Homo sapiens: one gene and its partner. The protein of the gene in region 2 interacts with the protein of the main gene of each other region in a biochemical or structural test. Each region holds a gene or a part of one and is shown on either strand. Other genes may lie near its edges. The genes, in order: GNG2 and PLEKHG2.

Evidence for each region.
Region 1: the proteins of PLEKHG2 (region 2) and GNG2 form a complex in vitro, tested with the Homo sapiens proteins (one study listed by BioGRID).

What each region holds. Positions count from the first base shown.
Region 1 is NC_000014.9:51,947,445-51,954,716, reverse strand, and holds part of GNG2 (guanine nucleotide-binding protein G(I)/G(S)/G(O) subunit gamma-2 precursor), read right to left. Parts: intron 4,068-7,272; coding exon of another isoform or gene 4,039-4,067; coding exon 3,952-4,038; intron 1-3,951. UniProt on the Homo sapiens protein: Guanine nucleotide-binding proteins (G proteins) are involved as a modulator or transducer in various transmembrane signaling systems.
Region 2 is NC_000019.10:39,415,508-39,422,779, forward strand, and holds part of PLEKHG2 (pleckstrin homology domain-containing family G member 2), read left to right. Parts: intron 1-840; coding exon 841-907; intron 908-1,043; coding exon 1,044-1,090; intron 1,091-1,342; coding exon 1,343-1,493; intron 1,494-2,047; coding exon 2,048-2,185; intron 2,186-2,397; coding exon 2,398-2,598; intron 2,599-3,226; coding exon 3,227-3,319; intron 3,320-3,409; coding exon 3,410-3,496; intron 3,497-5,118; coding exon 5,119-5,152; intron 5,153-5,243; coding exon 5,244-5,345; intron 5,346-5,441; coding exon 5,442-5,489; intron 5,490-5,567; coding exon 5,568-5,606; intron 5,607-5,775; coding exon 5,776-5,792; intron 5,793-6,607; coding exon 6,608-6,781; intron 6,782-7,224; coding exon 7,225-7,272. UniProt on the Homo sapiens protein: May be a transforming oncogene with exchange activity for CDC42. May be a guanine-nucleotide exchange factor (GEF) for RAC1 and CDC42. Activated by the binding to subunits beta and gamma of the heterotrimeric guanine nucleotide-binding protein (G protein).

The DNA of each region.
Region 1 (7,272 bases), on a different chromosome or scaffold from region 2:
GAAGAGGCAGACACAGAGAGAGGAGCAGAGACAGGTGACGGAGCACTCGCAGTTCTCAATGGCCTTCCAGTTCTCACTTCCACTGCCTATCTAGCCACATTTCTGCTCTTGGATTGAGACATCCTGTATCTTTTATAATCAGTACCTCTTTCTGCTTCAGCTAGCTTGGTTGAGATTCCTATTATTAGAAACTCAAAGAGTCCTAATACAATGATGAATAAACAGATTTACTGAAGCCCTGCTGTCCTTTACTTTTGTGCATGTTCCCTCCTCTTGTGCTCTAAGGACAAGGTTTCTTTCATTTTGTCTTTGGTCAGTGTTAGTGTGAGTCTATTGCTGTTTCATTCATCCAGGTGTCACAGTCCACAGCCCCTCTCTCCCCCTTCCCCTAACTCTCTTCCCAATTTCCTTTTATTTCTCTTTACCCTCTGTCCTTGAATGAAATCCTAACAAAGAAATACAAAGAGGCTGAGAGTATAATTTATATATGCCCGAGGCTTATGAACAGATAATTGGTTCACTTAGCCCAAATCTCCCAGGGTCTGTGATGTAAAGGGATAGAAAACAAGAAGGCTTAAAAAACAAACATGCTATTCATGTAACTATGTTATTCATAGAGTAGGGCTACTCTATGCAGCATAATTTATTCTGGGGGTCACATGAGGGATAAGGCCACCGCCTGCTTAAGGGACCCTCAACAACTTCAATTCCAGCTGTGTCCCCAAATCCTCCTCTTAAGAGTCCTATTCTTTGCCACCTCAGTTGCAGTAGGTTCTGCCAGACGTATATAAAGCCATTTCTATCCTTTATAGCTTGAAGAGGTCACTACTCTCACTGGAAAATCACAAGCCTGGGATCTTCAGAGAGAAGCCCCTTCCTGCTGAAGGATCATGTATGGAAAGTAGGTGGGGAAGCCTGAATGCTCAAAAGCCTTGAAAAGACTTCTAAAGGCAGATAACCAAGCCCTAAACCAGCTAGCTGACAACCGTGTCAACACAGTCAACACTTTATCCAACTGCTCAACTAAAAATAATCTGTCACTTCACCACAGCAAGCCTGCCTGGCTCTGAGGTACAGAACAAATGCTGAAATACAGGATGCTGCTGTATTTCTAACAATGTAAGGTCCAATGACATCAAGTGGGATTCAGAGATTTGAATGTGAAGATCACCTAGGAAGGCAACTACTCACACCCAGTTTATCAGGTTCATGCTTTGCTTCTTTTTTAGTATTGATTTATTTGTGTCTCTTCAAAGGGCAATCAGAGTGTGGTATTGGCTTCTTTCTGATCACATTTGGTAACTATGCTTCTTGGATATCTTGTTTGCGTCAATAATAGGCCTTGTTCAATTTTTTTGTAGTCTTCAACTAGGTCAGGGATTTTTGAGAGCAAGAATCATGTTTTTGTCTATCTCCATCTCTTTAGAACCTAACAAGCCCTTGCAATTTAGAAAGCTCTCAGTAAAGTATTTATTATATAAGTAAATGAATGAACAACTGAACAAACAGCAAAAATCCAACCTTATGATGCGGGTCTAGGAAAACTTTTTAAAGGACCTAATAATTTGATCTGAATCTTTAATGAGTCAATGCAGTCAAGTGTTAAGTAAAGTAAGGTAAGTAAAGCAGCAAGGTAGAGGGGCAAAGGAGACTGGATGTTCTAGGCATTTGAAATTCCCATCAAAAGAATTAAAAGTTGTTCTATATGGCATGCAGAAAAGAGAGCAGGAATGAAGCTGAAGAGATGACAGGGGTCACAGGAACTTTGTATACACTGCTAAAGGGCCTGAATTTTATTTTACTGGTGATGGGGAATCATGAGCTGATTTTCAATAAAGAGGAATGTAATTAGATTTTCTTTTAGAACATTATATTTGGAAGGAATATGGAAGGTAATTGATGGCGGGATGGAGATGTATTGAGATGGAATTGCAGACAGCAAATAGGAGCCCCTTGCAGTCAGTAATTCAGGTGAGGGATGATAAAAGTCTAAACTATTTCTGAAAAGCTCTATTTCTATTATCTTTCTTCTGCTGTCAGTTTTCATCACCCATGAGCACATCATATCCTCCTTCAGGAACAGTAACTGGGGATGCTGAATATTAACAGAAAACATCAACCACAGTAAAGCTTCACAGACTTTTATCATAGTTGGACCACCTCAAAAGTCAAAGTGGTATTTTCCAGAAGGCCCATGGGCAGAACCTCCTCTCCCTCAAAAAGAACTGAATGACCCTTTCTGATTTGACAATCCATGGGCCACCTTACTTCTCTCAGCAGGTATTGTGCCCACCTGTTGCTTTGTGCTTTTTCAGCAAGAGAGTGAAAAAGAAGAAGCAAGAAAAGAGGAGAAGAGGAAGATGGCAAAGGAGCACGGTAAGGTCGCTTTAGTGATCTCAGTCATGAAGAAAGAAGAAGAATTAAGGCTGTTGAAAGAAGAGCAGGAGCTGATTAAATCCTGTGGTCCATTACTAGGCATCAAATTTTACAAAGGAGATTTAGGATAATGGGAAAATGTCCATGGGTATTTGCTCATCTTACTTGTAGAGAAAGAAGAGCTCTCTCTTCACTCTCTAGCACATACCTGATGAGACTTAGCAGAAGTAAACTCCTTCCCATAGGACAGTGGTTCTCAACCTTGGCTATACATCGGAATGAACTGAAAAATTCTTTTTAAAAAATACTGATGCCTGAATCATACCCCAGGAGATTCTAATTTAATTGGTTTGGGTGTGGTTCGGTAATTGGTCCTTTTATAGAGCTCTCTGGGTGTTGGGAACGCACAGATGAGCTGAGAACCATCGCTGTAGACCAGGGGTCAGTGAACTTCCTGTGAAACACCAGAGAATAAATATTTTAGCTTTGTGGGCCATATGGTCTCTGTTACAACCACCCTACTCTGCTGTTTTAGAGTGAAAGCAGCCATAGACAATATGTAAATGAGTGTGTTCTAATAAAACTTTCTTTATAAACATAGGCAGTGGGCTGGCTTTGGCCCATGAGCCAAATTTTATTGACCCTGTCAGACTCCAAAGGACAGCTGGATTGCCCAGGTGCTGAATTAGGTATGGAGAAAATAGGAAAAATATTCTAGTTTTAAAAGGGCATTTGGAAGAAGGTTGTAGTTTTAGCTTAGTACAATGAGATATGTGTCTGAGCTGCATTTCATAGAATTCTTGGGTAAGGCATTTTACTTCTGGGGCAGTAAAGTTTTGATGGTTAACAGAAATTTACTTTGCCACCGTGCCATAGCTATCTATTAATAACGACAGCATATTGGCCAAGGTTTTCATCTGAAAACTACCAACGAAGGGTTTGAATTTAAAGTCTTGGTTCCAGATGAATTAGCCCCAGCTTACAGCAAAGCTGTCAGGTTAGGTCTGGGGAGGGAGAGGAAAAAAAGAAACACATAGACTATGAACTTTCATTAAACCTCTTTGTTGTTTGACTTCTTAGGGAGGCAAGGTGTGACTTTTGTGTTTGCAGGAAAAAAATTCAATAAAGTATAAAGAAGAAAAAACTTATAACGTGCAAGGATAACTAGAAGTGTTAGACCCAAAATACGGACATTTAGCCTTAGAACCTGAACCAGGACAGAAAAAATTAAAAACCAAATAAGAAAAACGTTTCCATGAGGACAGGGAGGGGAACTAGTGCGCTGATATATTTTATGTGTTCTCTAATTTCTCTCACTGGAATTTAACCATGAGCCTGTTTTGCTTTTTTTTTTGTGTTGTGTTGTTAGGTTTTAATTCTACATGGGAAAGAGGATCTAATTCATTCTATTATTTTATGCTGGAGAAGGGAAAGACACGTTAGAAATGAACTTCTGCCTAATCTTTAAGATGCTCTCCTGTCATTACTGGTTTTATCCCTCTCTAGGAAAGAGTGGTCACATGACATGCGCCTTAGACTCACGCTAGATGAAGTGTGGGGTTAGACCATCCTCACCTTTATCCTGTCGATATTGGCTTCCATCTTAAGCTGCTCTACCAGCTTCCTGGCTTGTGCTATGCTGGCGGTGTTGTTGCTGGCCATCGGAGTGCTGGATAGATCTTTCAGAAACACTAGAAAAGAAAACAAAAAGAAGATTGTACCAGAGAATTCATGAGCCAGCAAATGTGCAAGTTCATCGTAACTAGGGGATCTCAAAGCAGTGGCTGTAGCCAGGCCTGGCTTCTCCAGCCCTCTCCATCCTTGGTCGGTATTACCTCTGACTGGCAGGCAGAGCAGAGGATGAGGTTTGATTTTCCAATTCTCCCTACTTCCCCATCCCTTCTTTAGAGAGAAAAAAAACACACACACAAAGAATATTACCAAATGTTCTCCCAGTGGGCTCAAACCCCATCCTTCTGGTTAACTGTGACCACCTCAGCGTATTATACTACAGAGACACTATAGTGGGAGGCTTGGCTTTTCAGTGTCACTTAATCCAGCATTGCTGTAAATAGCCATTCCTCCCCACTCTATTTGAAATTAAAGTTTGAGTCACAACGATCTACTTTACTCATAATTCCTCAGGGACACATCTATCATGCCAAATGGGAGGGATTGCCATGCCTAATCTCTAAATATGACAATTAGTTCACCAGTGTTATTCTAAATGAAGTACAACAAACTTATTAACTGATTTCTTTTATAAATCTGGAACATAAACATTTTGAGAGTAGAGTTCTTGGCTGGGCATGGTGGCCCACATCTGTAATCCCAGCACTCTGAAAGGTCAAGGTGGGAGGATCCCTTGAGGCCAGGGTTTGAGAGTAGAGTTCTGTTCCTAGGCAGATTGCGAGATGGTTTCTTTGTCTCTGCCATACCTCTTTCTCCATGTGTGCTCCCCTCCCCCTTCAAATCCTATCCCACATTCATTTCTCTTCTTATCCTTTCTTGACATACCATCTCACTTTATTATTATTGTTCATCTTGGAAAATACCTTATTTTATTCCCGTTGCTGATGCCCACTTCCCCCACATTCTGAACAAATCTTACTTTGTGTCAAGGTGTCATATGCAATTTTAGGACTACCTGTGTAAATATGCTCCTTGAGATCACTGATATCCTATTGGATAAAGCAAAACCTAAGTGCTTTGATTTGACTAGAGTGCATGACCCATGAAACAGAAACATTAAACACTGCCTCGTCAACACTAATGGAATCTTGTTCTGAAGATATTATATAAAAAATAATGACTTCTGCTAGCTTTGGACAATCTTTTTACCAAAGGATGAAGTAAGATCAGGTTACTTATCTTAAAAAGAAAAAGAACACACAGAAAACCTGGAAAATGAAGAATAACCCGTAACAAATTCTGTACATAGATTTTTTTTAACCTACCAACTAAAATCAACAAATAATTATTGTCTTAATGACCAAAAAGCAAAAGTCTATAAATTATCTCTTTTGGTAGTTATTTCTTGATATCCAGTTCTTCAAGACAAAAGAAGAAATTAGGTATAACTCTCTGTAACATACAAATCCCTTCATGGAGAATATTATGTTGAAGAATACTACAAAATAAGCCACCCAACATCATTTACAGAATAAATTGGAGCATAATTAATTGTTCCCTCAATTTCTTTTCTTTTTTTTTTTTTTTTGAGACGGAGTCTGCCTCTGTCGCCCAAGCTGGAGTGCAGTGGCGCGATCTCGGCTCACTGCAAGCTCCACCACCCAGGTTCATGCCATTCTCCTGCCTCAGCCTCCTGAGAAGCTGGGACTACAGGTGCCCGCCACCACACCTGGCTAATTTTTTGTATTTTTAATAGAGACGGGGTTTCACCATGTTAGCCAGGATGGTCTTGATCTCCTGACCTCGTGATCCGCCCACCTCGGCCTCCCAAAGTGCTGCGATTACAGGCATGAGCCACCACGCCCGGCCATCCCTCAATTTATTTTCAAAGAGTTTGGAGACAATAAAATGAGAGGGAAGATTGAAGGAATTTTTGAAGTCACAGAGATCTCTGAACTCTACTTTTACACATTTGGAGATCAAAGGAAGGAGAATTGCATGGAAAAACAAAATAATAAAAGGAGACTTTAACAAGTATTATTTCATTAGCATGGTTAGAGACCCAATCATCGCAGCCTCACAGGGAAATTACATGCTCCACAATTAAACAAACATCTAACAGCCTAGGAAGACTTCATAGGGCCAAGATAGAGCATTGACTTATTCAGAAGGGTAGCCTAACTCTTCTATTCATCCAATATTGGATGCAGCCACAATCTACAAGCCCCTGGATGCTGTTCTGTGAAGCGAATGTTTCTGCCAAACTGGAATTCATTCATCTGGCTGGAATGCAGACTATCACAGAATTACCAAATTCTTATTGGGACATTTGAGATTCTGGCCAGTGACTCTTCTGCCCTGAATCTACACCAGATTACAGGGTGACCTGTGGCAGAGATCACAACTTGCCTTCTAATCCCTCTTCCTTTCTTCTTCATTAGTAACGACACTTTTTTTCTTAGTGGAGACCACAAGAACCCTGAATTTTAGCTAGGTGTATTTAGCCGAAAGATACATTCCAAGCCTCTCTTGCAGCTAGGTATAGTTACATGACTAAGTTTTGGCCAATGAGATATAAGCAGAAATGTTCTTGAAGGGAAGAGGTATACGCCTTGTCTCTCCTTCCTCCTGCTACTGGCCTGGGAGGCATCTGCATTGATCACAGAAGTCCCTCTTGAACCTCTAGCATGACTGCTACACTAGGGTGAACAGGAAGGATCTGGGTCCTTACTGATTTTGTGGAGCCACCATGCCAACTGTGAGATGGTTACCTTTGATGTGACAGAGAAATAAGTGCCTATCTTATTGATGCCACCATTATTGAGGGGTTCTCTGTCATTAGCCAACAGACCTGCTATTAACTGAGTAAATGACCCATTATTGTCATTCAAGCATCAAGGAAAGTCTGTGTCTCAATGCCTTTTCATGCTCCCTGGGAAAAGCTGTGAGTGGCTTGAGGAGGCTGAGATAGAGAATATATTTGTTCTATTGCTGCTGTAATATATTACTACAAGTTTAGGGGCTTAAACAATAGAAATTTATTATCTTATAATTCTGGAGAGCATTAGTCTCAAATGGGTCTCACTGGGCTAAAGTCAAGGTACAAGCAGGGCTGTGTTCCTTTTTGAGGCTCTGAGAGTTCACTTTCTTTCATTTTCTAGCTTCTGGAGGCTGTCAGCTTTTCTTGGCTCTTGGCCCTTTCCTCCATCTTTAAAGCTGGCAAAGGTGAGTGGAGCCCTTCTCATGTCACATCACTCTGACCTC
Region 2 (7,272 bases):
GGAGCTTCGTAGTGTCCTGTCCAGGCTGGTACGTGGGGTTGTGACATTGGGCAAGGATCAGGGATCACGACTGGGAGGGAGGACCCCGAGTGAGGGAGGGGCATAGGGGATGGGAGGACCCCGAGTGAGGGAGGGGCATAGCGGATGGGAGGACCCCGAGTGAGGGAGGGGCATAGCGGATGGGAGGACCCCGAGTGAGGGAGGGGCATAGCGGATGGGAGTCAGAGGACCTGGATGAAGCCCAAACACTGGGACAGGGTCCCGGCATCAGGACGAGTCCTTGGGGCTGTGTCAGGTCTGGGCTCACGATGAATCCAAGAATCATATGGGGCCTGAAGGCCGAGACAGCGTGAGCATGCGAGTGACCCCCTAAGCCTGATTTGCCTGGGACTTTTCCAGTTTTAGCACTGAAAGCCCTCGTCCTAGGAAACTGCTCAGTCCCGGACAAACCAGGATGGTTGGTCACTGTGGTAAGGAGGACTCTGGGGTCCAAGGATCATGACATTTCCAAGTACCTTGACGAGGTCTCGGGATTACAGCAGGAACTTAAGATCATCCTAGCTCTTTGGGTCATGATATAACACCCCTAGGCTCATGCCAGCACTGACACAAGTTCAAGCTGAGGAATGAGAAGCTGTCCAGGGACAAAGTCTAAGCAGGTTACCATGCCCCGTGTAGCCCTCAGAGGACCCTTCCTCCGGACATGACATCCCCTTAGGAGATGCTGGCAGTCAGCAAGCCCCCAGCCCCAGCAGACCATTGGGGCCTCAGCCTCCTGGAGGCCTCCCATGGAGGGGTCGTGAAGGCAGGCGGTTCCTCACCCTCCCCTCTCCCCTGTAGCGAGCTCCTGGAGGACTTGGAGAACAGCAGCAGCGCCGGGGGTATTGCCGAGTGCTTCGTGCAGAGGGTGAGTGGAGGGGTGGGGGGCTCTCGGTCCTGGATGGGGCCTTTGTAGAGGGGGGAGAGCAGGCTTGGGCTAGGCTGGAAGGGGGGTCGTGGGAAGCCAGGACCTGGGGTCTCCCTGACTCCCATGTCACCCGCAGAGCGAGGATTTTGACATCTACACATTGTACTGCATGAACTACCCGAGGTGAGGGGCAGGAGCCCCTGCTGGGCCTCAGGCTGTGCCCACAAGCTGATGTGCCAGTCACCCGTCACCCTCCCTCTACCCCCGACCCATCCAGCACCGACCCCTGCCAGGCTGTGACAGTAACTGACCTCTCCCTCACTGCCCCGCCCCCTGTCAGACCCTGACCCTTCCCAAACCCTGGCCCCTCCCTAACCCCTCTTGACCCCGCCCACTGGAACTGACAATCCCCACTGACCTGTGCTGTGCCCCCAGCTCCCTGGCCCTGCTCCGGGAGCTGTCGTTGTCTCCGCCAGCAGCCCTGTGGCTGCAGGAGCGCCAGGCCCAGCTTCGCCACTCGCTGCCCCTGCAGAGCTTCCTGCTGAAACCTGTCCAGCGCATTCTCAAGTACCATCTGCTGCTGCAGGTCAGCTGGGGCCCCTGGAGCCAGGCTGGGGAGGGGGAGGTCCTGTCCCTTGACCACCTGTTGGTTCATCTGGAGGATGGACCCCCCACGAGTTGGGCAAGGCCTCCCAAAGTGCTGGGATTACAGGCGTGAGCCACCGCGCACAGCCCTAGCTTTTTTTTTTCCCTTTGAGGTGGAGTTTCACTCTTGTCGATGAGGCTGGAGTACAGTGGTGCGATCTTGGCTCACTGCAACCTCCACCTCCTGGGTTCAAGTGATTCTCCTTGCTCAGCCTCCTGAGTAGCTAGGATTACAGGCGCACACCACCATGCCCAGCTAATTTTTGTATTTTTAATAGGGACGGGGTTTCACTACGTTGGCCGGGCTAGTCTCGAACTCCTGGCCTCAGGTGATTTGCCCACCTCAGCCTCCCAAAGTGCTGGGATTACAGACATGAGCCACTGCGCCTGGCCTCTGCCCCTATCTTTATATTTCTCCATCTCCTGTTATTCTCATTCTCTTTCTCCTTCTCTGTTTCTCTCCCCATCCCTGCGTGCCTGGTGGCTGCCTGACAGGAACTAGGGAAGCACTGGGCGGAGGGCCCAGGCACTGGGGGTCGCGAGATGGTGGAGGAAGCTATTGTGTCCATGACAGCGGTTGCCTGGTACATCAACGACATGAAGCGCAAGCAGGAGCATGCAGCGCGCCTCCAGGTGGCCCCAGGGTGGGCTGGGGCTTGCTGGATGAGGGAGTGAGCGAGGGGGCCTTGGGGCGGGTGGGGGGAAATCAGTGCCTCAGAGGTAGCCTTGGAGGGTTGGCTGGGACAGCATGGCCCTGTTGCTAACCCCCTGTTTTGGTGTGTATGTGTGTGCCACCTACCCATGCTTGTCTCTGCGCCCCGGCGCACCTGGCGGGGTCCCGGCAGGAAGTGCAGCGGCGGCTGGGTGGCTGGACCGGACCAGAGCTCAGTGCTTTTGGGGAACTGGTGTTGGAGGGCGCGTTCCGAGGAGGCGGAGGGGGTGGCCCCCGGCTACGAGGGGGTGAGCGGCTGCTCTTCCTGTTCTCTCGGATGCTGCTGGTGGCCAAGCGCAGGGGGCTGGAGTACACCTACAAAGGCCACATCTTCGTGAGTTTGGGGATGGGGTGGGGCTAGAATACTACCTACAAAGTATATCCCATATACCTGTATCTGTGTGCCCGGCAGTGTGGGCCAGGGGACCCTGCCACATTTTCTTGAGTTAGAGAATGGAAGCCAAGGGAAGCTTTCTTTCTAGTGTATAGAATGAGAGCTGCCCCACTTAAGAAAAAAAAGGAGAAGGCTGGGCGTGGTGGCTCATTCCTGTAATCCGAGCACTTTGGGAGGTCAAGGCGGGCGGATCACTTGAGGTCAGGAGTTCGAGACCAGCCTAGCCAACGTGGTGAAACCCCGTCTCTACTAAAAATACAAAAATTAGCTGGACGTGGTGGCAAGTGCCTGTAATCCCAGCTACTGGGGAGGCTGAGGCAGGAGAATTACTTGAACCCAGGAGGCGGAGGTTGCAATAAGCCAAGATCATGCCACTGCACTCCAGCCTGGGTGACAGAGCAAGACTCTGTCTCAAAAAAAAAAAAGGGAGAGGAAACCCACCATACAGCCTTATGGGATGCATCTTCCTAGGGAGGAGGACCCAGATACACCTCCAAGGGTGTCTCCGTACAAGGGGCATCACTGAGCCCAAGGACTCTGAGCTTGCTACCCCTCTCTTTCCTTCCAGTGCTGCAACCTGAGCGTGAGCGAGAGTCCCCGAGACCCTCTAGGGTTCAAGGTGTCTGATCTGACCATTCCCAAGCACAGACACCTGCTCCAGGTGAGCATGTAGTGGGATCAGGCTGGCAGGGATCCCCCAGCCTCGAGACCTCACACCTGGCCCCCTGACTCTACTCCAACCCACTCCTAGGCCAAGAACCAAGAAGAGAAGAGGCTGTGGATTCACTGTCTCCAGCGCCTCTTCTTTGAGAACCACCCTGCCTCCATCCCTGCCAAGGTACAGCTCCTGCCGCAGCCGGGGGCCCTCTGAGTGCTGGAGACACCCTCCCCCAATAGTACTAAGAGACGCCCCTGCCCAATGCCAGAGCAGTCTGTTATAATGTGATTGCTAAAAGTGCAGAATTCCGCTACTTGGGTTTGAATCTTAGCTCTACCATGTCCCTGCTTTGTGACCTTGGGCAAGTAACTTAACCTCTCTGAGCCTTAACTTCCTCACCTAGAGGAATGAAAGCGCCTTCATCCTAGGGTTGTGGTGATGAGTAATGGTCACCAGCCACGTCATGGGCTTGACCAATAGAAGCACCCATCAGCTGGCTGTGGTGGCTCATGCCTATAATCCCAGCACTTCGAGGGGGTGATGTGGGAGGATCATTTAAGCCCGGGAGTTCGATACCAGCTTGGGCAACATAGTGAGACCCTGTCTCTAAAAAACATTTTTTAATTAGCTGGGGCTGGCCAGGCACGGTGGCTCACACCTGTAATCCCAACACTTTGGGAGACCAAGGCGGGCGGATCACCTGAGGTCAGGAGTTCAAGAGCAGCCTGACCGACATGGAGAAACCCCATCTCTACTAAAAAATACAAAATTAGGCCGGGCGCGGTGGCTCATGCCTGTAATCCCAGCACTTTGGGAGGCCGAGGCGGGCGGATCACGAGGTCCGGAGATCGAGACCATCCTGGCTAACATGGTGAAACCCCATCTCTACCAAAAATACAAAAAATTAGCCAGGCGTGGTGGCAGGTGCCCGTAGTCCCAGCTACTCGGGAGGCTGAGGCAGGAGAATGGCGTGAACCCAGGAGGCAAGAGCTTGCAGTGAGCCTAGGTTGCGTCACTGCGCTCTCCAGACTGGGCAACAGAGTGAGCCTCTGTCTCAAAAAAAAAAAAGAAAAAGAAAAATTAGCTGGGCATGGTGGCGCATGCCTGTAATCCCAGCTACTAGGGAGGCTGAGGCAGGAGAATCACTTGTACCTGGGAGGCGGAACTTGCGGTGAGCCGAGATCATGCCATTGCACTCCAGCCTGGGCAAGAAGAGCGAAACTCCGTCTCAAAAAAATAAAAATAAAATAGCTGGGCTGGACGTGGTGGTTCACGCCTGTAATCCCAGCACTTCGGGAGGCCAAGGCGGGTGGATCACCTGAGGTTAGGAGTTCAAGACCAGCCTGGTCAACATGGTGAAACCCCGTCTCTACTAAAAACACAAAAATTACCGGGTGTGGTAGCGGGCACCTGTAATCCCAGCAACTCAAGAGGCTGAGGCAGGAGAATCGCTTGAACCCAGGAGGCAGAGGGTGCAGTGAGCCGAAATCGCGCCTTTGCACTCCAACCTCGGCAACAAGAGCAAAATCTCCGTCTCAAAAAAAAAAAAAAATTAGCTGGATGTGATGGTGCACATATGAAATCCCAGCTACTCAGGAGGGTGAGGTGGGAAGATCGCTTGATCCCAGAAGTAGAGGCTGGAGTGAGCTATGATTGCACCACTGTACTCCAACCTGGCGTATAGAGCAAGATCTAAAAACAAAAACAGCACCCATTAATGGGCATGACTACGGTGCTTAAAGTATCCTCTCTGTGGTACTCCAAGATCGACCCACCTCAGCCCTCATCCTCCTGTCTTTCAGGCAAAGCAAGTTCTCCTTGAAAACAGCCTGCATTGTGAGTTGGGGCCTTGGGCTGGGAGGGTGTGGAAGTAGACGAATTACTTCCAAGAAAAAGTTGGCTTTTAGCCCCAAAACTCTCCCCACAGGTGCCCCCAAAAGTAAGCCTGTCCTAGAGCCCCTGACACCCCCACTTGGGTCTCCTCGACCTCGAGATGCTAGAAGTTTTACCCCTGGGCGAAGGAACACAGGTAAAGGCGGTGGATCCCTGAGTCCCAGCCCTCAGCCCCACTTCCCTAGGACCCGGGAGCTGGGCTCACACAGGGCTCTGGCCCTCCCTCCCACAGCTCCATCTCCTGGGCCCTCTGTGATTCGCCGAGGCCGCAGGCAGTCTGGTGAGCACTCACCCCTAAGGGTGATCCAGGCATCGGGGTGGGAGCTGGGCTCCTGACATCACTGTGTCCTCCCCGCAGAGCCGGTGAAGGACCCTTATGTCATGTTCCCACAGAACGGTCAGTGACTGCCCCGGTTCAGCCTGGTCCATCCCTGTCTGTCGCCCGGTGGGATGTCTGGGGCGGGTTGGGGAGGGGTGGTTGCTTCAGCTCATCAGTTATGGGGGAATCACTCTTTTTCCCTTACATCTCACTAATGCTTCTCTCTCTCTCATCTCTCCATCCTTAGCTAAGCCTGGATTCAAGGTAAGAGATATCTCGAGATAGGGTCTGGGCACCTTGACTTCTGGGTCTGATGGAGAAGGGAGCTTGAGTTCCAAAATCCTGGGTCTGAATGAGAAGGGGATTGGGGCCAGACAGAGTAACTCATGCCTGTAATCTCAGTATTTTGGGAGGTCAAGGCAGGAGGATTGCTCGAGCCCAGGAGTTTGAGACCAGTCTGGGCAACATGGCAAAACCCCATCTCTACAAAAAGTACAAAAAAATTAGCCAGGCACACTAGTGCATGCCCATAGTCCCAGCTACTCAGGAGACTGAGGTGGGAGGATTGCTTGAGCCTGGGAGGCAGAGGTTGCAAAATGAGCTGGGACACACCACTGCACTCCAGCATGGGTCACAGTGAGACCCTGTCTCAAATAAATAAATAAAAATTTTAAGAGAAAAATAAAAAAATTTAAAAATTGAGCCAGGTACGGTGGCTCACCTGTAATCCCAGCACTTTGGGAGGCCGAGGTAGGTGGATCATCTGAGATCAGGAATTTGAGACCAGGCTGGCCAACAAGGAGAAACCCCGACTCTACTAAAAATACAAAAATTAGCTGGACATTGTGGCAGGCGCCTGTAATCCCAGCTACTCAGGAGGCTGAGGCAGCAGAATCGCTTGAACCCGGGAGGCGGAGATTGCAGTGAGCAGAGATGGCGCCATTGCACTGCAGGCTGGGCGACAGAGCGAGACTCCATCTCAAAACAAACAAACGCAAAAGAAGGGGATTGGGACTTGGGGTCCTCTATGTGAGGGAGGAGTCTTGGCTCTTGCCTTCCATTGCTTTCCCTCCTCACAGCACGCTGGCAGCGAAGGGGAACTCTACCCTCCAGAATCTCAGCCACCAGTTTCAGGCTCTGCACCCCCTGAGGACCTGGAGGATGCTGGACCCCCAACACTGGACCCCTCTGGGACCTCAATCACTGAAGAAATCCTGGAACTGCTGAATCAGCGAGGCCTTCGAGATCCAGGGGTGAGCTGGCTGTCCCATCATGGTGTCCTTGGGCCTCTGGGTGTGGGCACACAGACCAGGGACCAGATAGGCCAGCCCATGCTGATACCTTTATTTTTTTTTTATTTGAGATGGAGTCTTGCTCTGTTGCCGAGGCTGGAGTGCAGTGGCGCCATCTCGGCTCACTGCAAGCTCTGCCTCCCAGGTTCAAGCGATTCTCCTGCCTCAGCCTCCTGAGTAGCTGGGACTACAGGCACCCGCCAACACACCCGGCTAATTTTTTTTTTTTTTTTGTATTTTTAGTAGAGACAGGGTTTCACTATGTTGGCCAGGCTGGTCTCGAACTCGTAACCTCAAGTGACCCGCCCACTTCAGCCTCCCAAAGTGCTGGGATTACAGGCGTGAGCCACCACACCCAGCTACCATGCTGATATGTTTGGCTTGTTCTCCTGTGCCCACTATAGCCGTCCACCCATGACATTCCCAAGTTCCCCGGAGACTCCCAGGTGCCT